Homo sapiens: one gene and its partners. The protein of the gene in region 7 purifies or fractionates together with the protein of the main gene of each other region. This does not show direct contact. Each region holds a gene or a part of one and is shown on either strand. Other genes may lie near its edges. The genes, in order: MTMR1, CDAN1, SPIN1, SMC4, SLC25A31, MYDGF and TRIM17.

Region 1 (3,605 bases), on a different chromosome or scaffold from region 7:
GGATGTGGAGCGACCAATGTCCTGGGGTTAGAGAGGGCAGAGGCAGGAGCAGAGTGCTGCGGGGCCGCTCCCGGGCTACATGGGTTGCGCAGTCCGGGGCCTGGAAGCAGCAAAAAGTCCCAGGCTCACAAATCCCAAGTCGACTGCTCTGCCGCCTTCCAAGCAGGCTGGTAACCAGTGGAGGTTCCAGTTAACGCGCAGTTGTTTTTCAACCAGAAAGCTGGGTGAGAAAGGAGCCCTGCACCTCGTCACTTGTTGCAGCCTCATGGAGAGTGGCCCGTTTGGGATGAAGTATGTCCTTCTCATCAGCTCGCATGTTGGCTTCAAATTGAGAAGACGACAGTTCAGTTCAGGGCATTTCAGCATGAAAACAAACAAGATGCAGTGGACCCTGGGTTTTAACATGGAGGTCGGTTGTTTGTTTTTTCATTTTGTTTTGCCAACCTCGGCTTCTAGTGAAATAATAGCATCAGGTCCTCTCAAACCCGAGACCACCATATGCCTGTCTCGTGCAGGAGTTCTGCATGGCTAGCTGCTATGGTCTCACTGCTGGGGAAGGCTGGCTGGCAAGCAGTCCCCTGGGCATCCTCTGTGCCCAGTGAATACCGGGCTCTCTGGCTCACTCAGTAGTAACGTGTGTGGAGAGGGACAGGGACCCCACACCCTTAACAAGAAGACCGACAACACACAGAGGGCACAGGGGGTGGTGTGATTTCATCCAGGCCTTCGTGGCCCTGAAAAGGTGAACGCCCCTTCCTTTGGGGTGGGGGCAGTCTGAGGCCTTAGAGAGCACTGCACTTGCATGCGAAGGACTCATCACCCTGACTGGCTCCTCTCAGGTGTCTCCAGACCTTTCCCCAAGTCGTCCACGTTTTCTCAAGGTTAGAGCTGAGGGCGTTTCTGACTTTACAATCATCAATCAATCAATCAATCAATCAATCAGTATTTCCTGTTTCAGCCAAAATACTTACTTACTTACTTACTTACTTACTTAAGACTCATGATACATTTACAATTTACTGAATGAATTAAATCACATAAAGTTAGTTACTTTACATCATCATATATTAACTGTGCTTGACGCACAGTAAACATTCAATCCATGTTATTTTATTACCGATTTTCCTCAAAGGAAAAATCTACTAAGATACTTACTTACTTACTTAAAAAAGACCAGGGAGCAAACATATGATCATTTTAATTACAGATGATTGAAATACAGTGCAACAGATGAGACAAATACAATACTGTACCAGTTTTTAAAAACCTGAACCATAACGGCTTCGCATTCTAGTACACTTACTTACTTAAAACAAAAATTGCTTAGATAACAAAACTATACTTCAAGTTGTTTTAGAAACAGTTCTGCGCTAGGAACATACAAAGGAAAATGACCCGTTGTGCTTCTTTAAAATCGAATGAGAGTCTCCTCTAGGGTCCTGCTGACAGAGCCCCCCCCAGCCTCCGCCAGGTGAGGTGCACAGGGCCCACTCCAGGCACCAGCTCCCCCCAACTTGGCTTCTCTGGTTTGTCGAAGGCATCATCCAGTCCACACTATGTTTAACAGTCCTAGTCAGCCAGGGGATTACATATTTCTGGGAAGAAAATGGCAAATGTCCCCATTAAAAAAAAAATCAGTATATCAATAATCCAGTATATCCATTCATAAATAAGCTTTCAGATATGTTAGGAACATAAAAGCTATTGTTGAACACGACTTAGCAACAAATCCCACATATGATAAAAAATGGAGAATTGATTTTAGGTTATCAAATTACCTTGAATAAATCTCTCTGGTATCTTCTTATAGAAGGATAATTTTCCGTAAGAATCAGGAGGTTCCCAGTTAAAAAAAAATCCATTCTTTCTCTCTCTACGAAAAAACCCTTAACATATTTTCAAAAATAATAAGGTCAATCTGTAGGCCTTTGCCTGGAATCCAGTAGTTTGAAACCAACCAGCTAACACTGCTATGCAGTCACACTGGGGTTTGACCTCAGGGGCCGCTGCAGCTGCCTCTGCCTCTAAAGGCTGAATTCCTGCAGCCAGTGGCGGGGTGGGGGGGCAGCTGCAGCAACAGGCACGGCACATGGGAGGGGCATGGCCTGCTGGGGCAGGACCCAGGTGTGCAATAGTCATCTGTGGCATGTCACACAGAGGAGCTCAGAGCTATGGCGCTCAAGTGGATTGAACCAATTGGTAAGTTAGTTAATTCCTGCGAGAACCGACGGAGTCACAGAGCTCAAAGTCAGTAAGTAAAGGTTCAGGAGCGGGAAGAGAGGGCTGACCAGCTGCGGTCGGCTCTGGGAAGGGAAAACCAAGGGAAGTGCGTGCTATGCTTTTCCAAACCAAAGCCACAGCACGGTGGCTGCTTTCAAATATGAACAGGCAGCCACGCGAGTAAGCTGAGTTGAAGGAATTGTGATAAAATGAGAAATGATTTCATACAGGCAAATAACATAAGAACAGACTTGCTTTGATCCCAGCAGCTGGCTGCGGTAAAGTGGGGGTGGGAGACATGGCTAGACAGCCCAGGAGCGAGTGACAGGCAGTGCTCCTTGAAGGAGCCAGAGGCCAGCACCTGTGCACAGCTGCCAGAGGCCTCGGTTTACCCTCAGCGGGGCTGGAAGACTGAGCATGGCCGCTTGGTGCCATCCCCATGAATGGGCTGAGCCGCCCCAAGAGGCGAGTACCAGAGTGAGGTGAGGACAGAACACGTTGCCCTTGAAATTGCACCACAGAAAAACGAGCATGAGGTTTGTTGGAAAAGAATTTCTCCCACAGTACAGTTGAGCTGATCCCCCCTCGGGTGACTATTCTAAACGTAAAAAAGGACATAGGAAAATAAAGGCCTGTTTCTCTTCTCTAAAAATACCTTATATGTACACAACAGTAATTGTTAACAGGAGGACCCCGTGCATGAAGAAAACTGTGGAACAGAGGGCAGTGGCCTGTCTTCTCCCCAAGTACTTCATTCAAGACAGTTTTCAAGTTGTGGCCAAGAGCTGAGGGAAGCCACGGGGCTGGCAATGCATCTTGAAGTGAGTGGTGTTTGTTGTTACTGAAGGATTTAAGTTGGAAAGAAATGGCGTACAGCTTTCTTGAACCTCAGTACTGCATTCCGTTCACTTAGTTTCTCCCAAGCTGCCTGAATGCCAGAAGTTGCTTCACAGGGTGGGCGTGACAGACGGCTCCCCTGTGAAACCGCTGACAGGAGGGTAACGGTTGCCAACAGTGGGAGCTGTCACCTAGCCACACAAATGGTCCCTGGGCCTAATCCTAAAAGACAAGATCACAAGCTACAGCCATAACAGTGATCGCCAGGTCCCTTTCCTGAGCCACCGGGAGACAGTGGAGCAGCAGGCTGACCTCGCCCATCAGACCGAGGTGTGGACGGAGGTGGCGGAGTGGGAGGGCGAGGAGCCCCGCTCAGATGAGGATGAGACGGCGCGCGTGGCCACCTCCCGCTGTAGGCCCTCCACACGCTTCTGCAGCTCCGCCCTGACGGCCAGCAGCTCCTTGAGATTCTGGTGAATGGGCATCTGGAGGGAGCAGAGACAAAGCTGCATTATCAGGCCATCCTCCTACCACAGCGTTTCCACATG
Region 2 (4,583 bases), on a different chromosome or scaffold from region 7:
TGATCACAAGGTGGTGACTGAGGAAAACTCCCATTTTTTACTTTCTAGGTTGATGGGATTTCCTGGCTCTACCATGGTCACACAAGTGGACCCCTTTAGGTCCTCCTGAGGATTATATTATCAGTCCAACTCCTGGTTATTAATGCACATGATCACAGTAGTGCTTTTTTTTTTTCCCCTCAAAGAGATGGGGGTCTCACTCTTGCTCAGGCTGGAGTGCAGTGGCACAATCATAGTTCACTGTAACCTCTAACTCCTGGACTCAAGTAGTCCTCTCTCTCGGCTTCCCAAAGCACTGGGATTACAGGTGTGAACCTGTCAAAATCAGTGGCTCATTTATAGAGCTTGATACAGCTGTAATCGAGAAGCAATGCTTTTGCTCTGAGAAACTCCAAGCCAAATCAATCAAACAAACACCTTAGCCTTAACAAGCTTAACAAGAACACTGCCCCACCATGTGGTTCAGTAGGGAATATCTTGTGTGTGGAAACTACATTATCCTAACCCTTTCTCCCACAAATAAAGCGAGTTACACAGGAGAAGTCAGTACCACTGGCGATAAATTAAATTAATAGATATTGCCACCAGAGACTAGCCCTCTAGAGTGGAATATACAGGCATTTCTAAGAGCCAAGGTAGCTCACCTTGTAATGCACAGAGCAAAGCCACAATTACAGCGCTCCACCTACAGCCCACCCGAGACTGCAGCCTTCTAAAGGGAGAAGACAGGTGACAATGATTAGACATCAAGCCCTTGTTAAAGAAAACCAGTTTATTCTAAAAAGCTCTAAATGCCCTGTGCTTGGTCCCTGGTCAGGGAGAGGTCTCAAGAGGTTACTACCTGCACAGGGGCTGAAGGTACAGGGGGAAAGTCAGGTTTCAGTTGGTTGAGTCCTACCTTATCTGTTTGTTAGGCTTTTTCTAGAAAGTCTCGCTCTGTTACCCAGACTGGAGTGCAGTGGTGCGACCTCGGCTCACTGCAACCTCCACCTCCAGGTTCAAGCAGGTCTCCTGCCTCATCCTCCTGAGTAGCTGGGATTACAGGCACACACCACCATGCCCAGCTAATAATTTTTTTATTTTTAGTAGAGATGGGGTTTTGCCATGTTGGCCAGGCTGGTCTTGAATTCCTGACCTCAGGCAGTCCGCCGACCTCAGGCCTCTCAAAGTGCTGGGATTACAGGCATGAGCCACCAGACCCGGCCTGTGTTAGGCATTTATAAGGAGATGGCAGTCCAGCTCCTGGTGATAAGAAAATGTAGACTCCCAAGATTCATGTTTTAACTTTCTTCATAAGTTAAGCAGGAGTCATTTGCCTCTGTCATGAATTCCAAGACTACAAAGTTTTAAGAGATGCTGGGATAGCAAATGAGGCTTGAATTCTGTGTTGACAAGCCCACACACCTCATTTCATTTAGTATCCAAGAGATAAACAAACACCACCTCTTCTACTCCAGGACTGGCATCTCTGGACTTTTCTGCCATAATCCCAAATCAGGCCAACTCTCCTTCCTCTAGGATTCGCGTGGTGGGATGCCAGGCAGTGACACCCTTAGAGCAGGAAGTCTGACTGTAGACCCAGCTACACCCCAACCAGTGAGGGTCTGCATTGGGCACTTGGGCCTCCTCGTGAGGCGGGGGTCCAGGGTTCTGGTGCAATGCCCAAGGCAGGGCCACTTCTCAGCCCTAGCTCTGGGCCAGCACAGTGCCCCGGTTTGGCTGCACCAACTCACAGGCTCTTAGCTGGGGTTCTGGCAGGTGGGGCTCGGCTAGAAACAGATTAGACAGTGTTGCTAATTCTTCAGCAAAGTCCTGGAATACATAGAAAGATGAGGGAAAAGGCAGCATGTAATAATTCTCAATGGCTCATCCTTTGTCACTAAAGACCACAACCTGGCTGGCTATATTATTTTTTCTCAACTGCCCTCCACACTGAAATGGACATGAAACCTTGTCTGTTTGTTAGTACTCTGGGAGGCTGAAGTTATGGCAGGGAGCGAACTCTGATGGAGGCACAGGCTTGACCAGTTTTTGAGTACTACTGAGTGCATCTACTTCATCTTGAAATTATTATTCCCGTTAAAATCCAGGTTATTCTAATTTTAAAAACCCATATAATGGGCTGTGCTGCTTTCCAACTAACTGCCTGCCTTTCGTCCGTCTTCCCACTAACACAGTCCCTCATATAATAACTACTCAAATCGGGACAATTTCAGGGTGGCCCTGAAGACTCTTGACAAAAATCCACTTAGTTTGGCCCCATCACTTGCTTCCTTTCAGGACAGATGGGATATGTAACACCTGTTCTCTCTCCACCTAAAAGACAGGAGACTCCTTACCCCTGGCCACTGGGCCTGGTGGAGGCTGCCCAGGCAGGCCTCTATCTCCATCCGTCCCATCAGACCCTTCTCCACCAGCTCCCGTAGCAAGAATAGCAGCAAGTCCCACTGCAAAACACACCGAGGTCAGGGTTGCTAGGAGGACGACAGAGTGACCCTGATGACAGAGATTGAGATCTCAAAGGGCAGAGCTGCTGGGAAGAGACTTGAGATGGATAAATGGAGCCCATTTCTGTGTGGAACAGGAAGGGGAAATAAAGGATGCAGAGCAGCTCATAGTTTGGGGCAAGGGTGGTGGATGTTCAGAGTGTGACTGCAGAGGGCTTCTTGTTCCGTCTGACTCACCTCCCTTGGCCTTGTGTCTGCCAGAAGCCCCACATTTCTTGGGCTCAGCAGCAGCTGCAGCGGAACCGGCCCCTGAAAGTCTTCCTTCCACAAGGAAAGCAGCATGTGCAGAAGCCTTCGAGCCTGCCCTCTCTCCAGCCTGTACTGTGCCGGGGGCCCTAGGATAGGAATTTGATCTGCAACTGTGGAAAGAGGAAAGCCAAGCTTTAAAAGATGGGGGCAGGCCGGGTGCGGTGACTCACACCTATAATCCCAACACTTCGGGAGGCTGAGGTGGGCAGATCAGGGGTTCGAGACCAGTCTGGCCAACATAGTGAAACCCCATCTCTATTAAAAATACCAAAATTAGCCAGGCGTGGTGGAAGGCACCTGTAGTCCCAGCTACTTGGCCGAGGCAGAATTGCTTGAACCCGGGAGGCAGAGGTTGCAGTTAGCTAAGATCGTGCCACTGCACTCCAGCCTGGGCAACAGAACAAGATTCCGTCTCAAAAAAAAAAAAAAAAAAAAAAAAAGGGACAGAAGAGGGCTCTGTTTCTAATCTTGCTTGTACCCAACCCTGAGATTTGGGGGATCAGGCAAGAGAGGGATTTGATGGAAAGCAACCATACCGAGGAGGGAAGCTAACTCCACAGAGCACTTTGCCAGATGCTGCTCAGCAGGTGGGCACAGGAACTGCGGTTGGGGTGGGGGGGAAAGAGAGACCATAGGTATCACCATGCTTACTGCTGCGAGAACTGGCCCTGAGCCAGTGTGGCTCTGGTTATCAGGTCTCACACAAGGACACAGAAAAAAGCCCCCCGGTGGCAGATGCCACAGCTCACCTGGCGGCACCGCAGCGTCTGGCCCAGCTGGCCTAGGAGCTGTTCCAGATGCTCTGGGGAGACTCCCTCGTCAGGGTCCCGTGGCCCCACGGCCAAGGAGAGCACGTCCTGTGAAGAGCAGGGGGAGATATCACCTTGCGCTGGGGGCCAGGATGCCACAGAGAATTTGGCTTGGGACAGGGATCAGCCAGTGGAGAGAGGCAGAAGAATGGGCCCCGGGATATGGTGAGTAAAGCCAAGTTGCCCCTAGACCTGGGACTTGGGCAGGATAATACAGCCAGGGGAAGCAACCATGTGGACAACAAAAGAGGGAACAGATGGAGGTCAGCTGAGGGACAGTAGGCTGCCATAGCATGGGAAACGTCACTCAACTTGGGACCAAACTGTAGCTAACCAACTCCCATAGGGCATCTTATTCTTGAAGCATGTAAGGAAACCGGCCTATCAGATACCGTCTTAGTATCGTCTGTCTCTCAAGCCTCTCTGTTCATCTTCTCTGGAGAGCTGAGCTTTCAATACAGAAATCCTCTGCATATTGACAACCAGTATCAAATGGCCACTAAGCCTCTTCCTCTCCCTCCTACATAATCTCCATTTTTTAGTCATTGTACCTTATAGTCCCTATTCCAATCTCTATTCCTAGATCATTACCCTAGACCAGAACCAGACAGTAAATATTTTAGGCTTTGCAGGCCATAAAGTCTGTGTCCCAACTATGCAACTCTGCTGTTCAGTAGTTGCACAAAAGCAGCCATAGGCAGCTCGTACACAAATTAATATGGCTGCATTCCACTAAAACTTCACTCACAAAACAAGGGGCTGGCTCGCTTCAGTCCATGGGCTGTTTCTTGACTCCTGCTCTAGAGAGTCTTTGAGTTTTAAAATAAAGTTAGGAGAACTGATGGTTTATTCTTACTGCCTGTAACTAAACAAGCATCACCTCCCACATAGAACATTTCTGAAATTGTCTCCAAATACTGGGGCGACTGCCTCCTAGAGACTCATTTGCTATCAAGCCATTCACCACCGCACTCTCATCACCATCTGCATAATAAGCATTTAGTCAAAAATGTCCTAG
Region 3 (3,998 bases), on a different chromosome or scaffold from region 7:
AATTTCAGGTGTAGCCTTCTTTAGTAAATTCAGTCTTCATAGTCGGTAATCAGCGAAACACTTTGTCAACTTTTTTTTTTTTTTTTTAATCCCCAGCGACATCTCGAATCAGCGATGCACACTTGGCAGACACAATGATTGGCAAAGCAGTGGAACATATGTTTGAGACAGAGGATGGTTCTAAAGATGAGTGGAGGGGAATGGTCTTAGCACGTGCACCTGTCATGAACACATGGTTTTACATTACCTATGAGAAAGACCCTGTCTTGTACATGTACCAACTCTTAGATGATTACAAAGAAGGCGACCTTCGCATTATGCCTGATTCCAGTAAGTATATATTGGCAACTTTTATATGTGATAATTAGAAGGGATTTGGACTTCAGTACAAGATATTTGATTGGCTCTTTTGCAGATACATTTTTATTTTTGGATATATGATTCTTTTAGTCATGCACAAACACAGCCTTTGAAATTTTTCATCCAGTTGTTATAAATGTTAGATAAGAAAATATTTGATAGTCAGTTCTGCTTGGCTTCTGTAATAAGATACAAGTTGTTTTATAATTATTAACACTACTACATATTACTTCTTGCTTTTATTTAAAAACATGATGGAATAGGGATCAGTAAAATACGTCCCCGTGTACCCTGCTCAGCTTTAACAGTTATCTCATCGCCTGTCTAGTTTTATCTGTTAGTCCCCCCAGTGCAATTATTTTGAATCTAATCCCAAGACATTGATTATTTCATCTGTAAATACTTGAACTTCAGAGCAGCGATCTTCAGCCTTTTTGTCACCGGGGACCAGTTTCATGGAAGACAGTTTTCTGTGGATTGGGGGTTGGGTGTGGATATGGTGGTTTTGGAGGCATTAGATTCCCATAAGGAACACACAACTTAGATTCTTCACATGCGTAGTTCACAATAAGGTTTGTGCTCCTGTGAGAATCTGATGCCTCTGCTGATCTGACAGGAGGCAGAGCTCAGACGGCAGTGCTCTCTTTGCCGCTGCTCACCTCCTGCTGTGCGGCGTGGCCCCAGGTGTCTGGGACTCCTGATTTAGAGAACATCAATTTCAGAAAACGATTGACTGCTAACTTTTCAGTAGCAAGTGGAGTACAGAGTCAGTGTTTAGACAGGTGATTTAGCTATTTCCACAACTAGTCTGTTCACACAGGTAAGGTAGAAGAGGATGTGACCTGGGCTAATTTCATTAGGCCTAGAAAACCTTTATTGTGGTTTTTGTTTTTGGACAGAGTCTTGCTCTGTTGCTCAGGCTGGGCTGGAGTGTAATGGTGTGGTCTTGGCTCACTGCAACCTCCGCCTCCCACGCTCAAGCGAGTCTTCTGCCCCAGCCTCCCAAGTGGCTGGGACTGCAGGCACCCACCGCCACACCTGGTTAATTTTTGTTTGTTTGTTTGTTTTGTTTTATATTTTAGAGATGGGGTTTCACCATGTTGGCCAAGGTGGTCTCAAACACTTGAGCTCAGGTAGTCCACCAGCCTTGGCCTCCCACAAGTGTTAGGATTACAGGTGTGAGCCATTACGACCATGTTAGTCCATATAGTTAGTCCATTTAAAATGTGCATTTCTGTACTTTTTAATATACGCACAGATATGTACAGTCCTCACCACAGTCGATTTTAGAACATTGTCATCACCTCAAAAGAAAACTTTGTATCTGTTAGCTGTCAGTCCTTTATTCTTCGAACCCCCTGGCCTTAAGCAACCAGTAATACTTGCTGTGTAAATTTCCCTGTTGTGGACATTCATATGAATGGACTATATGGTGTGAGGTCCTTTGTGCTAGCTTCTTTCCCTTAGCATATTTTGAGATTTCATTCACGCTGTAGCATATATCAGTACTTCATTCCTTTTAATGGCCAAATACGATTCCATTGTATGGATATACTACATTTTGATTAGCCATTCATCCAGTAAAGCACATCTGAGTTGTTTCCCCACCTCTTGGTTATTATGAATAATGCTGCTGTAAACATTTTTGTACAAGTTTCTGTGTGGACATGTTTTATTTCCTTTGGGTATATACCTAGGAGTGGAGTTGCTGGGTCATAATGGTAACTCTATGTTTAATCGTTTGGGGGAACTGCCAGGCTAATTTTAAAAACGGAAATACCACTTTACATTTCCAACAGCAGTGTATGAGACTTCTGATTTCTCCACATTCTCACCAACTGTTACTGTTACTTTGATTCTGGCCATCCTAGTGGATGTGAAGTGGTATCTCATTGTGGCTTTGATTTGCATTTCCCTGATGAGTAATGATGTTAAGCATCTTTCATATGCTTATTGGCCCCCCCCCTTTTTTTTTTTGAGACAGAGTCTTGCTCTGTCGCCCAGGCTGGAGTGCATTGGCGTGATCTCAGCTTACTGCAGCCTCCGCCTACTGGGTTCAAGCCATTCTCCTGCCTCAGCCTCCCCAGTAGCTGGGACTATAGGCGCGTGCCACCATGTCTTCTAATTTTTGTATTTTTAGTGGAGATGGGGTTTCACCATATTGGCCGGGCTCCTCTTGAACTCCTGACCTCAAAGGATCCACCTGCCTTGGCCTCCCAAAGGGCCGGGATTACAGACATGAGCCACCATGCCCGGCCTATTGGCCCTTTTAATATCATCTGTGGTGAAATGTCTATTCATATCCCCTGCCTATTTTTAAATTGAATTATCTGTCTTTCATTATTGCATTGTGACAATTTTTTAAATACAAGACCTTTATCAGATATATGTTGCAAATGTTTTCTCCTATTCCATGGGCTGTTTTTACTTTCTTGATGATGATCTTTGCACAAAAGTTTTAAACTCTGAAGTCCGAGTTATGTTTTCTCTTGCTGAGTATGCTTTTTGTGTCCTAAGAATCTTTTGCCAAATCTGAGGTCATAAAGATTTACCCTCGTTTTCTTATAAGAGTTTTATAATTATAGCTCTTACTTAGAGATCTTTGATGCATTTTCAAGTTAATTTTTGTTTGTGGTTCAAGTTAAGGGTCCAACTTCATTTTTTTTTGCTTGTGACTGCCTATCTAGTTGTCCAAGCACCATATTTTGAAAAGACTATTCTTTCCCCCATTGAATGGTTTTGGCATCCTTGTTGCGCGGTGGCTCACACCTGTAATCCCAGTACTTTGGGAGGCCAAGGCGGGTGGATCACGAGGTCAGGAGTTCGAGACCAGCCTGGGCAGCACGGGGAAACCCTGTCTCTACTAAAAATTAGCCAGGTGTGGTGGCAGGCACCTGTAATCCCAGCTACTCGGGAGGCTGAGGCAGGAGAATCGCTTGAACCTGGGAAGTGGATGTTGCAGTGAGCCAAGACCGCACCATTGCACTCCAGCCTGGGCAACAGAGCGAGACTCTGTCTCAAAAAAAAAAAAAAAAAAAAAAAAAGAAAATCAGTTGACCACAGATACGTGGGTGTGTTTCTGGACTCTCAATTCTGTTGCATTAGTTTGTATGTCTGTTGCTGTGCCAGTGCTGCATTGTCTTGATTACATTGCTTTGTGGTAAATTTTGAGATCAAGAAGTTTGAGTCCTGCTTTTTTTTTTCCTCCTTTTTTTGAGACAGTCGCACTCTGTTGCTCAGGCTGGAGTATAGTGGCACGATCTCGGCTCATTGCAACCTCCGCCTCCCAAGGAACTGGGATTACAGGCATACGCCACCACATTGGGCTAACTTTCGTATTTTTAGTAGAGATGGGGTTTTGCCATATTGGCCAGGCTGGTCTCAAACTCCTGGGGTGAAGTGATCTGCCCACCTCAGTCTTCCAAAGTGCTGGGATTACAGGTGTAAGCCACTGCACCCCGGCCCCTCCTTTCTTTTTCAGGAGTGTTTTGACTATTCTGGGTCCCTTGCAATTTCATATAAATTTTAGAATCAACTTGTCAGAACAAAGAAGTCACCTGGGATTCTGACAGGGACTATGTTGAATTTGTAGATCAGTTTTGAAGAGTATTGCCCTCTTAACAATGTTAACAAGACTT
Region 4 (2,402 bases), on a different chromosome or scaffold from region 7:
AAAAGATCTTCAACCTTTCGGGAGGAGAGAAAACACTTAGTTCATTGGCTTTAGTATTTGCTCTTCACCACTACAAGCCCACTCCCCTTTACTTCATGGATGAGATTGATGCAGCCCTTGATTTTAAAAATGTGTCCATTGTTGCATTTTATATATATGTAAGTAATCATTTTGGGATTTTCATTCCAGAAACTTTTAGGGGTATCCTAAACATTACACATGGAATTCTTTATTTCTTACAATTGAGCTTTTTCTTTATTGTCTAATAACTCCATCTCCATCTCCTCTGGTATCAGTGGAGACCAAATTATTTTTTATTTGAACCAAATATTTCCATTTTGGAGGAGTAAAATATAAATTAAAAATGCAAATTAGTAGCAGAATCACAGCTAGAATCCTAGGTCATCTTCCTAGATCTTTTCCACTAGAAGTCAAAATAACCAAATTCCTTTCACACTCAAATACTGTTTTATGAATTATTCCTGCCATCATTCCTTTACATGTTATCAATGTAATGTTTATTGTCCAAAAAATATTTGAGGTTACATGTTTGTGTGATTTACCTGTTATTACTTAATGTTTGACTTTTCTTTGTTTCTCTTTAGGAACAAACAAAAAATGCACAGTTCATAATAATTTCTCTTCGAAATAATATGTTTGAGATTTCGGATAGACTTATTGGAATTTACAAGACATACAACATAACAAAAAGTGTTGCTGTAAATCCAAAAGAAATTGCATCTAAGGGACTTTGTTGAACTTTATGCTGAAGATTCTTCAAGTTGATTCAGTGTATTACTGATTTTTTTCTATTTGTAAAGGATTATGAGTTGTATAAAATACATACTCCCTAAACTAGATCATGAAACTGGTTTCTGTTTTATGCAGTTGTCATTTGTAAAGTCTAATAAAATATTCTCTATAATTGCTTCTAGATTACAAAAATATGACAATCTTGTAAGTAGCAGACTATGGAGAAAAATGAGTTACCTGGAGGGTCAGGTAACTTGCCAAACTAAAAAGTATGTTAGTTGAGGCAAAGTCCTAAGCAAGGTTGTGCTATCAAGGCTCAGCATACCTTCGTGGGCCTTTGATTTACCAACACTGGAAATGCCTGCCAACTAATCTTGGATAGATTCTTTAAGGCATTCCACTTAGCTTGCCAGTTGAGACAATCACCACAGTTATTACCCAAATACTATGAACATATTTTTGTAAACCAGTCATTCTGAATTATAGTGATGAGAATTTAAATATATGCTTTTCTAGAATTTGATGTTTGACCATTTATGACTTAATTACCAGAGAGCCAGTAAATTAGGACAGTGTTTCAACAAGCCTAGGCTATCTCGTAAGTTGAAAAATATCCCACTATAGTTGCTTCATGAGTATGAAGTAAGATGGCCTCTGATTTACACTGGTTCAATTTACAAATTTTCAACTTTATGATAGGTTTATCCGGGTACTAAATGCATTTCAACTTGATAGTTTCAACTTATGATAGGTTTACCAGGATGTAGTCCCACTGTTGAGGAGCATCTATTTAGGGGTTAATTACTTTAGTAATAAGTGGAAAGTAAGATACCTTGAGTAATGTTTGCCTATAAAATTGTCAGCGTATTTTTACACTATTGGCTCAAGAATGTTATAATGCTAAGGGACATAAGTTGGCAACCACTTGGTTTTTGGAAGGACTTTCGGTATTGTATTAGAAGTCTGCCCTAGCTGTTAAATTTCTGGGTATTTATCCTAAGGAATTAATTAAAGAGTTAATTGTTCCTTTCTTCAGTGGGCCATTGTTTTAGATATTTAAAAAATCCAACAGTTTCTATCATAATGTAACTGTAAAAATGTAAACACATTATTAGCATGGACTTTTAAATAAAGATTTAAAGAAAGCAAGATCGGAAATTCAAGTACGGTAATTTGTTCTAAATCAAGAATATATAAGGGAAAAGTAAGTTTAAAGTGCTATAATGATAATCAAGTGTTTTCATTTGGTGCGAAAATAGAATTTAATACTTTTATTATATTTTAATAACCAATGCAGTAGAGCTCAGATTTTTTTTTTTTTTTTGAAAGTCTCACTGCATCACCCAGGGTGGAGTGCTGTGGCAAGATCTTGGCTCACTGCAACCCTGCCTCACGGGTTCAAGCGATTCAAGTGCCTCAGCCACATGAGTAGCTGGGACTACAGGTGCACACCACAGTGCCCAGCTAATTTTTGTGTTTTTGGTAGACAGGGTTTTGCCATGTTGGCCAAGCTGGTCTCAAACTCCTGGCCTCAAGTGATCTGCCTGCCTCAGCCTCCCAAAGTGCTGGACTATAGGCATGAGCCACTGCACCCAGCCTGCAGTACTAAGTTTCAAAGAATTAGAAGTACCCAGAACCCATGTGAAAAT
Region 5 (3,998 bases), on a different chromosome or scaffold from region 7:
ACCTCAGAAAGACTTAGAAATTAGAGGAACTAACTACTACTTCCAGGATGAAAGCAAAGGAGCAGGGAGATGCTCAATATCCACAACCTCACCCTGAGCAGCCAAATGACTTACTGTGCTGCCACCCACAGAACTGAACACAAGGCTCCAGATTTAACGGGGCCAGTTGTGTGACCGCTGCAATCACTCAAACACTGAAAAAAGACTCACATAAAGATATTTTATTGTGAAATATAAGATCATCAGGGATAGAAAGAAACTAAAAAGAAAAAACATATACTAAAGGATCCGGAGTAAGCAAATTGGTATCTTAAGAGCAACATTAGAAACTAGAAGTCAGGGTAATATTTTCGTAATTGTGAAGGAAAATAATTTTAAACTCAGACTTTCATATATGTCTTACCCTTTTTGAGAGGGTAAGACAAACACTTTTTTTAAGATATGTAAGAGCTCAATTTATTTTTTTTCACTCTTTCTCAAAAAGTTACCAAAGAATATACTCTACCAAAAAACAAGGGTGTAATAACAAAAAAGGGAAGATGTGATATTTAAGTAAGGATAGAGGCAAAGGGACTCCCTAGGATGAGATTTGTGCATCTAACCTAGAAGGGAGCCACAGCTGAGACAGGACTAAGTGCATGGAAAAAAATCTAGGAAGGGCTTTCTAGGAAAAAAAAATGGGACTAAGTTATAAGCAATTTTTATGTTCACTTTTTTTGTTACAACAGGCTTTCCCTCCTTCCCTTTTTTAAGGGAAAAGAAGCAAGTAATATACTTTAGGCCCTATGACTCCACCATTTGGTTGAGAACAAAGTTCGTAGACTTTATCTGGTAACACTATTATAGCACAATTAATGCCAATAAATAACAGATGGTTCAAAATGCAAAGAAGGAAAAGTTAGTATTTCTAAAAATCTCATACCTTTTCCAATATCGACACCTAATCGGGTTCGGGCAAAATCTAGAGGATATACTACACATAAGGATGTTGCCCCAGCAGCTCCACCAGAAGCCAGGTTTGCCAAAAACCACCTCCAGAACTGAAACATATTAATTTAAAAGTGGTTATTAAACCACAGAATCTAACTGTTTAAAATACCTGGTAAATTCTTATTTTTATAAATGTTAAAACACCAGATTTATAAGCCACTTTTATAAAGTAAACATCTATAATAATGCATACCATGCTATCCAAAATATTTTATTTTTATAGCCATATAGCTTTTGTTTCATGCAGTCTGGAAGACACAGTTTAGATGCTGACATACTGAAATTCCAGGATATTTTAATGTTCTCCAGCAAAGCAGCCCAAATTAGCAAAAGAGGTCGCATAATCATCTCTTTACGCTGTATACTTTTTTTTTTCCTTAATAGCTACATAATTCTTAATAATAGTGCTTGCTATGATTACAATGTCAGGCACATATGGAGGCTTTAGTTGTGCCCTTTTTCTGTGAAGGGTGAAGTAAGTAGTATTATGGCAAAAAACTGCAATTACTTTTTGCACCAACCTAAAATACTTCACAATGCCCCAGCTTCACTTTGTAATTTAAATAGAATTAAATTTGAATAGCTCAAAAATACGTATTTAATTATGTTCAAATGACAACATGGAGATTGGCAGACATCAATCATAATGTAGTTGTATGGCATTTAAGTTAGGCCTCACTGGTCTACTAGTTCACATGAGCTATTGAAGAAGTATAATTACTTTTGATCAACATTTAAAATGTGCCCTCCCCAGGTTCAGCAAGATGCTTTTCAACATCTAGTGCTTATGCGAGAAGAAAGGAGTATCTGAATTGGAGCTGTTATGAAAAATCCAGGATACGAGGCCACTGCAAGCACTTAATACATTAAAGTGAATAATATGCTAGTCAAGCTCAATTTCTTGCTTTATTTTCTGGTTTTTATTTCTAACAATAAAGTGTCAGACAGCTTTGCAATTCTCAATGTTCTCTAGCCCTGGAATGCTCTTCCTTTTTTAAACAAAAAAATAGTTATTGCTTCATGCTCTAATTCAAGTTCTACTTCTTTCATGAAATATCTGATCTCCAACCCATCTATTGAAACTGTATATGATCATACCCTCTTCCCATAAATACTTCATCTCTGTCAGAGAATTAAAGTTGAATCCCATGACCAATACATAAAATGTATTAACATGTTATAGACTCTTTTTTTTTCTGAGATGGAGTCTAGCTCTGTCACCCAAGCTGGAGTGCAGTGGCGCGATCTCGACTCACTGCACAGACTCTTATTTTTTAAATATCACTTACAACCATTTTCTACTTTCAATTTATAATTATTTGTGTACATTTATACTCCTACAGACTATAAATTTCTTTTTTTTTTTTTTGAGACAGAGTCTCGCTCTGTCGCCCAGGCTGGAGTGCAGTGGCGAGATCTTGGCTCACTGCAAGCTCTGCCTCCTGGGTTCACGCCATTCTCCTGCCTCAGCCTCCTGAGTAGCTGGGACTACAGGCGCCCGCCACCACGCCCAGATAATTTTCTTGTATTTTTTTTTTAGTAGAGATGGGGTTTCACTGTGTTAGCCAGGATGGTTTCCATCTCCTGACCTCGTGATCCGCCTGCCTAGGCCTCCCAAAGTGCTGGGATTACAGGTGTGAGCCACTGCGCCCGGCCCAGACTATAAATTTCTTGAGGCCAGCATTATTTTTCCTTAACAGCTTTACTAAGTATAATTCACATATCATAAAATTCACCTATGTAAAGCGTACAATTCAATTGTTAATATATTCACAGAGTTGTGCAACCATCACCACAGCTTAGAATATTTTCATCACACCAAAAAGAAACCCCAGGCCTGTTATAAGTCACTCCACATCCTCCCTACCTCCTTAAGTCCTAGGCAACCATTAAACTACTTTCTGTCTCTATATATTTGCTTATCCTGGACATTTCATATAAATGGAATCACATAAGACACACTCTTTTTTGACTGGTTTCCTTCATTTAGCATGTTTTCAAGGTTCATCCATGTTGCAGTACATATTAATACTTCATTCCTTTTTATTGCCAAATAATATTCTATTTTATGAACATTATCTACTCATCAGCTGATGAACATTTGGGTTGTTTCCATTTGTTTGAGGCCAAGATTCTTAATTCCTCTGTTTATTTCACAGAGCAAGTCAGGAGGTCTTGCCCAGAGATATGTATTAAATAAGTATTTGTTTAATAAAGTGTACTGGTAATGCCACTTACTGTTCCCAGACTCCCATGGATCTTTTTAAGTAACACTCATCAGTTTTATTGTATAAGCAGCATGTCTCATCATACAGAAATAATTAGATCAGGAGATTGCATCTGACATAAGGGTAGTTAATCCACAGTGTAGTAGATGATTGGTAACCTGGTAGAAAAAGATGAGCTGGGCCAGAGCCTCTTTCTTGGGAACTGAACTTTAAATATTCAATACTAGTTATCAATAAGGACAGAAAAGGAAAAGTTAATGTCTTAGACTTTTTGGAGACTGTTTAAAGCTATAGATCCTCTCCTAAGAAAAATTACACATGTATGAACATATATTTTTAGAGTGTGGGGTATTCTGGAAGCATTCACGGATCCCAGGTTAAGAACCTCTGACCTTTAGAAAGGCCAAAAAGGATTACTATGGTACAAATATTGAATTTAAAGGAATAAGAAAATATCAGTAAGTAAAAAAAGTAGGCAATAATGAGAAAACAGAGCAAACACACACACTAAAAGCAGGTAATTAGAGAGAAAGAACAGGTGACTTGGGAGAGAAAGATGAGAGTATAGTTTGGTCCGTAGAGGTGCCTGTGGCTGAAATTCAAGTGCCACTGTATCATTACAATAAATCATCTTTTTCCTGAGGTAATCTGAGTTAATCTCTGCTTATGAAAACCAAGCACATCAACCAAACAAAATATGTGGCATAAAGATTTATAAAGTAGATCTTAAGTTCTACTTAATCTTTTTTTCTTTCTTGATGAGAAAGAAGGCAGATCAAT
Region 6 (4,685 bases), on a different chromosome or scaffold from region 7:
ATATATATTCACATATGTGAATATATGAATATATATATAGGAATGGGGTCTCACTATGTTGCCCAGAATGGTCTAGAACTCCTGAGGTCAAGCAATCCACCCACCTTGGCCTCCCGAAGGGTTGGAATTACAGGCATGAAGTATCACGCCCGGCCAATAAATTTCCTAACGCAAGCAGGTATCCCAATTTAGAACAGGCTGCCACTGCAGAAAGGCAACTGGCTTGGACTTCTGTCATTGGCAGAGGAGTCAGCCTCCACGGGGATCCTTCTCACCTCCCTGGGGCTCACCACCCTCCGTAGCTATGGAGTAGAGTGATTTAATTCCTCAAAGGGTGAATTATAACCCATCTTAGGAGTCATCTATGACGTTTTCTCTCTGGATTCTGTTTTTTGCCAGTTGGGAAGGACTAGAAACACCAGCTTAATTATTGACCCCCCAGGCCTGGCCACTGGTGTTTTCTTGAAATGTTAAGCCATTTGTAACCAAAGAATGACTTCCTTCTCTAGTTGAAAACCTGGGATCTAATGATAGCAATAGCTACAATATATAATTCTCAGTTCATTCGTCCCGGTGTGGGAACTTAATTCCCTCACTTACTCCTCCCAACAACTCCTTGAGGTAGGGATTATTTTCTTTTTAACTTTTTATTTTGAAATAATTTTTGCCTCCCAGAAAATCTGCAGAAACTGTAGGGTTTCCTAATACGCTTCATCCAACTCCCCCTAATGTGAACATCGTCTGTAACCCCTAGGACAAGCCAGGTTATCAAAGCCAGGAAGTGAACACCCACATAATCCTATTAACAAATACACAGACTGATCGAGCGTGATGACTCACACCTGTAATCCCAGCACTTTGGAAGGCCGAGGCAGGCGGATCACTTGGGGTCAGGAGCTCAAGACCAGCCTGGCCAACATGGTGAAAACCTGTCTCTACTAAAAATACAAAAATTAGCCAGGGGTGGTGGTGAACACCTGTAGTCCCAGCTACTCGGGAGGCTGAGGCAGGTGCATCACTTGAACCTGGGAGGCGGAGAGTGCAGTGAGCCGAGATCGCGCCACTGCCCTCCAGCCTGGGCAACAAGAGGGAAACAAAAGCAAGCATCCTGCTTCTCATCCTACTTTCCCTCTGCTAATTTTGAATATCGATGCACACACATCTTGGCTGCAACGATTATGAGAAGTTCGCCTAATGGTGACCTTCGATTTCCCTCACTCCCTGTACATCTCCTAACTGAAAGAGCTGCAGTCAGTCACACGGCTGGTGAGGGACCCTGAGACCCCAAAACGAACTCCATTACCACCTGAGGGACCCTCCAAGGATCGCCGGGCTACGCAGGGTCCCTAGGGTACGAGGCCGCCCCCTCGGCGGCCCCGCCCCCTCGGCGGCCCCGCCCCCTCGGCAAAAGTCCCGCCCCCTCGACAAAGTCCCGCCCCCAAGATGGTGGCCCCGGGCGGTGGACAGGGCGGGGCGTGCCGGGTCACGTGGACAGCCGACGCCGACGTGGCCTCCGGCGGACGCTCCACGTGTCCCTCGCCGCGCCCCGTCTACCCGCCCCTGCCCTGAGGACCCTAGTCCAACATGGCGGCGCCCAGCGGAGGGTGGAACGGCGTCGGCGCGAGCTTGTGGGCCGCGCTGCTCCTAGGGGCCGTGGCGCTGAGGCCGGCGGAGGCGGTGTCCGAGCCCACGACGGTGGCGTTTGACGTGCGGCCCGGCGGCGTCGTGCATTCCTTCTCCCATAACGTGGGCCCGGGGGTACGTGCCACCGCCGTCCCGGATATTTGAGTGCTGGCAGGCCCGGGGAGGGGGCGCGGAGCATTGGGGGCGGGGCCCGAGGAGGGGGCGCGGACCGCGGAGGTGGGTACTGAAGAAGGGGTGCGGATTGTTAGGGTCGGAGGCTGAGTGGGGGGCGCGGGACCGTGAGGCCGGGGTCATCACTGGGGCAGGACTGAACTCATAGGGAGCGGGGCCTTGTGGGCCCCGGCGGCGTTGAGGGGGCGTGATCACCTGTCACCTGTCGCCTGCCTGGAGTGTCCAGGCACCCCTGCCCTCCAGACGCAGAGGTGGGGAGGGGTCAGTGATGGGAGCGGCAGGAGGCTAAAGGGCATCTGCCCTCCTGGGCCTGAAGGAAATCAGTCGCTGCAGCTCCGAAGAGGGAGGAAGTGCTCCTTCCTTCCATTGCACAAGGTCCCCCCTCACCGAGGGTGTGAGGCCGGGCCCTCAGCCCTGTACTCAGCTTGTCGGCAAAGTCCTTTCCCCTCTCAGCCTCCCTTTCCCCGCCTGTAATAACAGTATCTTTACTGTTTTTTGACTATTTCTTTTTAGACTTGCGTGCAGTGGCGGGATCTCGGCTCACTGCATCCTTAGCCTTCTGGGTTCAAGCAATTCTTCTGCCTCAGCCTCCCCAGTACCTGGGATTACAGACGTGTGCCACCACACCCGGATAATTGTTGTTGTTGTTGTTTGAGATGGAGCCTCACTCTGTCGCCCAGGCTGGAGTGCAGTGGCGCGATCTTGGCTCACTGCAACCTCTGCCTCCCAGGTTCATGCCATTCTCCTGCCGCAGCCTCCCAAGTAGCTGGGACTACTAATCTTTGTATTTTTAGTACAGATGGGATTTCACCATGTTAGCCAGGCTGGTCTTGAACTCCTGACCGCAGGTGACCCGCCCACCTCGGCCTCCCAAAGTGATGGGATTACAGGCGTGAGCCACTGTGCCAGGCCAGTTTGTTGACTACTTCCTTATAGTTAGGTGTGATGCCAAGTCCTTTATATGTTAGGCCCAAGTTACAGATGAGAAAATGCTTCACATAAAAAAGAGAAACAGAGAGAAACTAGAGGCTCAGAAAAGTTTTCACTTGTCCAGGTCCCATGGCAAAACCCATCTCTACAAAAATACGAAAAATTAGCCAGGTGTGGTAGCAGGTGCCTGTAATCCCAAGTACTCAGGAGGCTGAGGCAGGAGAATCGTTTGAACCCGGGAGGCAGAAGTTGCAGTGAGCTGAGATCATCCCACTTCAGCCTGGGCGACAGAACAAGACTCTGCTTCAAAAAAAAAAAAAAAAATTAGTCGGGTGTGGTGGTTGCGTACCTATTGTCTCAGTTACTTGAGAGGCTGAGGCAAGAGGATTACTCAAACCTGGGAGTTCGAGGCTGCAGTGAGCTGTCATTGTGCCCCTGCACTCCAGCTTGGGTGACAGCAAGACCCCGTCTCTTAAACAAAATAAAAATTTCCTTCTACCAAACCTTTTTTTTCCTTCCATTCTCTAGGACAAATATACGTGTATGTTCACTTACGCCTCTCAAGGAGGGACCAATGAGGTGAGTTGTTCAAAATTCCCTCTAGCTTACTGTGACAGTATCCATTGTTGTAGGGAGATGTTCTGTAGCAGACAGCAGGGTTGGGTCTCACCTATATCACCTTACACTCATTGAATGACTCTTCCTAAACCAATAAAAAGGGAGAGTATTGGCATTAAACAGTGACGACAGATTCTGCTGTTATTATTCTACAGAGCAAGCAAATGTCTGGACAGAAGGAGGGAGGGGAGATGGGAGTCTGCCATCCCCATGAGCATCTGTTGGGATGTTGTATTTTATGTGCAGTGCAACAAGTTATCACAGCTTAGGGGCTTAAAACAGCACCCATTTATTATCTCATAGCTTTGTAGGTCAGAAGTCTGGGTCAGCTCAGTTGTGTGCTTCATAAAACCAAACTCAAGGTATTTTGGGAGGCTGAGGCGGGCAGATCACCTGAGGTCAAAGTTCGAGACCAGCCTGGCCAACATGGCAAAACCTCATCTCTACTAAAAATACAAAAATTAGCTGGGCATGGTGGCACATGCCTGTAGTCCCAGCTACTCAGGAGGCTGAGGCAGGAGAATCACTTGAACCCAGGAGACGGAGGTTGCAGTGAGCCAAGATTGTGCCACTGCACTCCAGCCTGGGCAACAGAGCGAGACTCTGTCTCAAAAAATAAATAATAAATAAATAAAGGTATCACAGGCAAGGCATGGTGGCTCATGCCCCATCTCTACAGAAAATAAAAAAATTAGCCCAGCGTGGTGGCGTGCACCTGTGGTTCCAGCTACTTGGGAGACTGAGGTGGGAGGATCGCTTGAGCCCAGGAGGTCAAGGCTGTAGTGAGCCGTGATTGTGCTACTGGGCAACAGAGCAAGACCCTGTCTCAAAAAAAAAAAAAGTCTCTGGGCTGGGAGAAGAATCCTCTCCTTCAAGCTCTTAGTTGGCAGAATTCAGTTACTTGTGGTTCAGGGACCAAGGTCCCGGTTTCCTTGCTGGCTGTTGTCTCCAGCTGGTGGCAGAAGAGCCAGTAAAGATGATTTGGGCCAGGCACAGTGGCTCATGCCTATAATCCCAGCACTTTGGGAGGCCAAGGCTGGCGAATCACCTGAAGTCAGGAGCTCCAGACCAGCCTGGCCAACATGGTGAAACCCCGTCTCTACTAAAACTACAAAAATTAGCCGGGCGAGCCAGGCGCACTGGCTCATGCCTGTAATCCCAGCACTTTGGGAGGCCGAGGCGGGTGGATCACAAGGTCAGGAGATCGAGACCATCCTGGCTAACACGGTGAAACCCCGTCTCTACTAAAAATACAAAAAATTAGCCGGGTGTTTTGGTGGGCACCTGTAGTCCCAGCTACTGGGGAGGCTGAGGCAGGAGAA
Region 7 (4,796 bases):
CAAAGTCATATCTCTGCTCACTGAGATAAATGTATATCTGATTGCCTCTTTTGGAAAGGCTAATCAGAAACTCAAAAGAATGCAAACATTTGTCTCTTATCTACCTATGACCTGGAAGCCCCCTCCCCACTTCCAGTTGTCCCGCCTTTCTGGATGGAACCAATGTTCATCTTACATATATTGATCGATGTCTCATGTCTCCCTAAAATGTATAAAACCAAGCTGTGCTCGGACCACCTTGGGCACATGGCTGTGTCATGGGCGTGTGTCCTTAACTTTGGCAAAATAAACTTCCTAATTGACTTAAACTAGCCTCAGATATTCTGGGTTCACAAGGGTAATTCACTTAATCGGCCAGTGTGCGCAGCCAGCCCGCACCTGACAGCACACAGACCCCTTTGTGTGTGCGAGTGATGAGAGACCACAGAAGAAACACTCTACCGAGTGAGCCCAGGGAAAGCCAGCCATCTATGCCTGTGGCCAGCTGTCTACACCCGCACACCCAGGAGATTGCAGAATGGTGCCTCTTAGCCTTCAAGGCCCTGTTTTCCTGCCTGTCTGCACCCCCTGTGTGGGCCAAGCCTTAGTTTCTTCATCTGTCCTCTCTCTCCAATCCCAGGACTCTGACTCAGGGCACGCAGGCCTCTGGCTCCTGTTCCTGAAAGCAGGAGATGAACCCTCCATGTGAAAGGTGCATCCCTCTACTGGAGGATGAAGCGTGATGACTAGGCGTGGGGACTCAAGGCCAGGAGAAATGGCCACCAGTCAGGACCTGGGCAGGGCTGGGGGCGGCATTTTGGCTGAAACCGTAAGAGACTTTTAAACCAGAGCAACTCCATCTTGTATAGAGGCTGGGTAAAATAATTCTGAGACCTGCTGGGCTGCATTCCCCAGAGGTTAGACATTCCAAGTCACAGGATGGGATAGGAGGTTGGCACAAGATACACGTCATAAAGACCTTGCTGATGAAACAGTATGTGGTGAAGAGGCCAGCAAAATCCCACCAAAACCTAGATGGCGACCAGAATAACCTCTGGTTATCATGACTGCTCATTATATGCTAATTTTAATACGTTAGCATGCTATGAGATACCCTCACCAGTGCCACAACAGTTTACAGATGCCAAGACAAGGTCACAGTTACCCTATATGGTCTAAGAAGGGGAGGAGCCCTCAGTTTCTGGAATTGCCCTTCCTTTTCTGGGAAACTCATGAATACCCCACCCCTTATTTAGCATATAATCAGTAAATAGCCATAAAAATGGGCAACCTGTAGCCCTGGGGGCTGGTCTGCCCATGGAGTAGCCACTCTTTATTCCTTTACTTTCTTAATAAACTTGCTTTCACTTTACTCTATGGATTTGCCCCGAATTCTTTCTTGCCCAAGATCCAAAACCCTCTCTTGGGGTCTGGATCAGGACCTGTTTCTGGTAACAAAACCACCTGGGGTGTCGGCAAGACCCACCCCGTCCCGCCTGGTTCTAGGGGACCTGACCTGCCAGGTGGTCCCTCCAAACTGGTCCGCCCACAGGATTGGGACGCCCCTCCCTGTACCCTCAGCCTGATGCTGACTGCCAACCATGTGGGCAGACCTGGCGGCTGACTGGCTGCTCCTGGGGACCCCCTTCATAGCTTCTCAACAGGCACTCGCTCCTGCTGCCTCGCCCCCACCCCAGCCCACACAAACTCCTCTCCATCCCCTACCCCGACCAACTTAGCCCCTCACCTAACCCTCCAGCCTGGGGCTCGCGTGCCCTCCCGCAGCCCCAACCCCAGGTTGAGAAGCCTCTTCCAATCCCACTCCCCCCACCCTGACGCTCGCCTGCCCGCCCCTAGCCCCACCAGCTGTCCCCATTCCACTCCCCACCCCCAAGTAACCCCCCAACTCCCCACCCTCCACACTCCCTTAACCTCCCCTAAAAGTCCCACCCCAGGCCAACAAGACTCCTCCCTTCGCTGGGCTGTGGACCACATCCTCCCCACCGCCCAGTCAGCACCCGCTGCGCCTGTCCCCGGCTCGTCCAGAGCCTTCCACCCCCTGCCGCCTTCCTTCCCCAAGCCACCCCCAACCTCTCCTAAGAGGCGCCGCCCCAGTCCCGGCCGCCGAACACTCCCTCGCCCAGCATTCCCCTCCCCCGCCGCCCCCCAGCCCCCGCTGACGCCACAAAGTCCCTAGGCCTCCCGACCCCAGGTCCCCACGCCCCGGGCCGGGCCGCAGCCTCCTGGGCTTCGTGGGGGCAGACCCAGCCTTTCCCGGCAGCGAGCGCTCGGCCAGGTGCACTAGGCGCTGTGCGGGCCCCCCTTCCCCGCGGTGAGTAGCCCCCACCCCGCCGCCTAGGCTACCCTCCTGTGGCGCCTGGGCCACGACCTAAGCCTAACCCGGTCCTCCTCGCCCTCCAACGCCCGGCCTTCCCGCCTCCGCCGGCCGCCGCGTCCCTGGAGGGGCTAGCGCGCTTCAACAAGGTAACTCTACCGGGACCCTAGCGGACCAGAGCGGGAAGGACAGCCATCCCGGCAGCCAGAGCCAGAGCCCCAGGCCCGCTGCCGCTGTCCCTGCCCGGCTTCGGTCAGGGTGGGCTGGGTGCCTCCGTTAGGGCTCTTGGGGGGAGTCGGAGGGCTGGCGCCGGGTGGTTGGCGTGCAGAAAGCTCCGAGAAACTGGACGTGGGACAGAGCCGGGGAAGTCTGAGACCCCTAGACGCCCTCGCTTTAGGGGATGGCAGAACGGAAGGGGAGAATCGTGCTTGCAGTGTAGACGCGATTTTCAACTCCTTCTGCAACTCGGTCCCCATAGCAACCCCGTGGCGTAGGCGAAAGTCTGTAGATCTCCACTGCGTGGGGTCGCGAGTGTTGAGATTGCAGGGGGCATCTATGTGCATGCTTGTGTGCCTGTGCGTGTGTGCGCGCGTGTACCTGTGTGTACATGCATGTATGTTTACCGATATGTGCATCTGTGCCTGTGTGTGCTGTGTTTGTGGATCAGTGTTTCTGTGCGTACATGTTTGTATTTGTGTGGTGTGTATGCGTGGGTATGCGTGTGTGCACATGCACGTTTGTATACATACATGGGTATGTGTATGGGTGTTCGTCTGTGCGTACATGCACACGCGTGTTTTTTCTGAACCCCACCTCACTACCGAATGGAAGAGAGCTTTTTTCCTCTGATAGCCCATCCCTTCTTCCTTTGGTGTACGGGGTTTTGTTAAAGAAAAAATTCTGACATTTGAAAGGCTCTTTAGTCAGGCTACTTGCAATGGGAGAGTTGCGCCAGCAAAGACAGCTGGGGATGTATGGGGGAGTTGGAGTGGGGATCTGGGTGGGGTCAGTGGATGGAAAGTGATTAAGGGAAGGCTCCAAGGGTAGGGGCTTCTCCCTAAGCTGACCTAGCAGGCTTCTCCAGAAAGGCAGGTTGAAGGCCTAGCCGGCAACGGTCTGTCGGGGAGGAGGAGCTGATGAGATGTGGAGCTGGGGGTAGCCAGCAGCAGGCGGAAGTGGACGGGTAGGGTCCAGGCCCAGTGGAGAGGAGAGGCGGAGGGGCCTGCAGAGCATTGGTCAGGGAGGGTCTGTGTAGTTTCTGGGGAGGCATCTGTGTCTGTTGTTGACAAGGCTAAAAATGATGACTCTGGACTCTCTAACTGGACTGCAGTCCTAGCCCTCCTCTGTAAAGGGAGGCTGTACAGGACGGTTGCACACTGCCGGCGCCCAGATCATCGGGCTGCTCCCTCCAACTCTCTCCAGAGTCCCTCAAGCGGGAACCTGCCTCGTGTCTCCCAGGAGCCATGGAGGCTGTGGAACTCGCCAGAAAACTGCAGGAGGAAGCTACGTGCTCCATCTGTCTGGATTACTTCACAGACCCTGTGATGACCACCTGTGGCCACAACTTCTGCCGAGCCTGCATCCAGCTGAGCTGGGAAAAGGCGAGGGGCAAGAAGGGGAGGCGGAAGCGGAAGGGCTCCTTCCCCTGCCCCGAGTGCAGAGAGATGTCCCCGCAGAGGAACCTGCTGCCCAACCGGCTGCTGACCAAGGTGGCCGAGATGGCGCAGCAGCATCCTGGTCTGCAGAAGCAAGACCTGTGCCAGGAGCACCACGAGCCCCTCAAGCTTTTCTGCCAGAAGGACCAGAGCCCCATCTGTGTGGTGTGCAGGGAGTCCCGGGAGCACCGGCTGCACAGGGTGCTGCCCGCCGAGGAGGCAGTGCAGGGGTACAAGGTAGGCCACATCGGGGCCCAGGTCAAGGGGCCGGGGAGGAGGCATCCAGGGGGACAAGGTGACCCAGATCATGGGGGAGGGAGGAGGTGTCCAGGGACAAAGTGGCCCGAGTCAGGGGCTGGGGAGGAGGCATCCAGGGGACAAGGTGGCCTGTGGCTGGGTAGGGGTGTCCCTGGGGACAATGTGGGCCTACACTGTATGATGCAGGCATTGCAAAATCTTACCTCTCCTCTCAGAGTATTTTGGGTGGCTCTGAGAACCAAACTGATTTGAGACAGATAAGCAGAAGCAAAGCACTGAAATTCATTCCCTGTAAGCTTTCCATGACCCAGGAGTCGCTCCCAAGGAGCCAGAGGCCCATGGAAGCATGTTAGAGCCAAACATGTACCTGAGGAGGATGAGGGTTAGTTTAGCAGGGTCCCTTTGCACAGATTTCTCTGGTTTCGGCTTTCCCGCCCTTGGTAAGAACATGGCTTTCCTCCTGGCCTAGGGCAGTCCTCTCTGGCATGGTGGCTGTGCCTTCTGCTCTTAGGAAGGCCGAGGGTCACAGCAATTCTTACACCTGCCCTTTTTTAAGTGCCTTCAGCTCA

Evidence for each region.
Region 1: the proteins of TRIM17 (region 7) and MTMR1 purify together in Homo sapiens (affinity purification with mass spectrometry; one large-scale study listed by BioGRID and IntAct). This does not show direct contact.
Region 2: the proteins of TRIM17 (region 7) and CDAN1 purify together in Homo sapiens (affinity purification with mass spectrometry, with the first as the bait; one large-scale study listed by BioGRID). This does not show direct contact.
Region 3: the proteins of TRIM17 (region 7) and SPIN1 purify together in Homo sapiens (affinity purification with mass spectrometry, with the first as the bait; one large-scale study listed by BioGRID). This does not show direct contact.
Region 4: the proteins of TRIM17 (region 7) and SMC4 purify together in Homo sapiens (affinity purification with mass spectrometry, with the first as the bait; one large-scale study listed by BioGRID). This does not show direct contact.
Region 5: the proteins of TRIM17 (region 7) and SLC25A31 purify together in Homo sapiens (affinity purification with mass spectrometry, with the first as the bait; one large-scale study listed by BioGRID). This does not show direct contact.
Region 6: the proteins of TRIM17 (region 7) and MYDGF purify together in Homo sapiens (affinity purification with mass spectrometry, with the first as the bait; one large-scale study listed by BioGRID). This does not show direct contact.

Annotation. Positions count from the first base shown.
Region 1 is NC_000023.11:150,762,502-150,766,106, reverse strand, and holds the end of MTMR1 (phosphatidylinositol-3-phosphate phosphatase MTMR1), read right to left. Parts: intron 3,543-3,605; coding exon 3,378-3,542; 3' UTR 999-3,377; downstream 1-998. UniProt on the Homo sapiens protein: Lipid phosphatase that specifically dephosphorylates the D-3 position of phosphatidylinositol 3-phosphate, generating phosphatidylinositol. Could also dephosphorylate phosphatidylinositol 3,5-bisphosphate to produce phosphatidylinositol 5-phosphate.
Region 2 is NC_000015.10:42,722,805-42,727,387, forward strand, and holds the end of CDAN1 (codanin-1), read right to left. Parts: intron 3,614-4,583; coding exon 3,506-3,613; intron 3,357-3,505; coding exon 3,293-3,356; intron 2,867-3,292; coding exon 2,685-2,866; intron 2,448-2,684; coding exon 2,340-2,447; intron 1,813-2,339; coding exon 1,687-1,812; 3' UTR 740-1,686; downstream 1-739. UniProt on the Homo sapiens protein: May act as a negative regulator of ASF1 in chromatin assembly.
Region 3 is NC_000009.12:88,468,276-88,472,273, forward strand, and holds part of SPIN1 (spindlin-1), read left to right. Parts: intron 1-96; coding exon 97-330; intron 331-3,998. UniProt on the Homo sapiens protein: Chromatin reader that specifically recognizes and binds histone H3 both trimethylated at 'Lys-4' and 'Lys-9' (H3K4me3K9me3) and is involved in piRNA-mediated retrotransposon silencing during spermatogenesis.
Region 4 is NC_000003.12:160,433,052-160,435,453, forward strand, and holds the end of SMC4 (structural maintenance of chromosomes protein 4), read left to right. Parts: coding exon 1-158; intron 159-605; coding exon 606-758; 3' UTR 759-1,902; downstream 1,903-2,402. UniProt on the Homo sapiens protein: Central component of the condensin complex, a complex required for conversion of interphase chromatin into mitotic-like condense chromosomes.
Region 5 is NC_000004.12:127,761,285-127,765,282, reverse strand, and holds part of SLC25A31 (ADP/ATP translocase 4), read right to left. Parts: intron 1,954-3,998; exon of another isoform or gene 1,745-1,953; intron 1,041-1,744; coding exon 923-1,040; intron 1-922. UniProt on the Homo sapiens protein: ADP:ATP antiporter that mediates import of ADP into the mitochondrial matrix for ATP synthesis, and export of ATP out to fuel the cell.
Region 6 is NC_000019.10:4,667,234-4,671,918, reverse strand, and holds the start of MYDGF (myeloid-derived growth factor precursor), read left to right. Parts: upstream 1-1,576; 5' UTR 1,577-1,584; coding exon 1,585-1,758; intron 1,759-3,273; coding exon 3,274-3,324; intron 3,325-4,685. UniProt on the Homo sapiens protein: Bone marrow-derived monocyte and paracrine-acting protein that promotes cardiac myocyte survival and adaptive angiogenesis for cardiac protection and/or repair after myocardial infarction (MI).
Region 7 is NC_000001.11:228,414,054-228,418,849, reverse strand, and holds the start of TRIM17 (E3 ubiquitin-protein ligase TRIM17), read left to right. Parts: upstream 1-1,988; 5' UTR 1,989-2,311; exon of another isoform or gene 2,312-3,736; 5' UTR 3,737-3,777; coding exon 3,778-4,206; intron 4,207-4,796. UniProt on the Homo sapiens protein: E3 ubiquitin ligase that plays important roles in the regulation of neuronal apoptosis, selective autophagy or cell proliferation.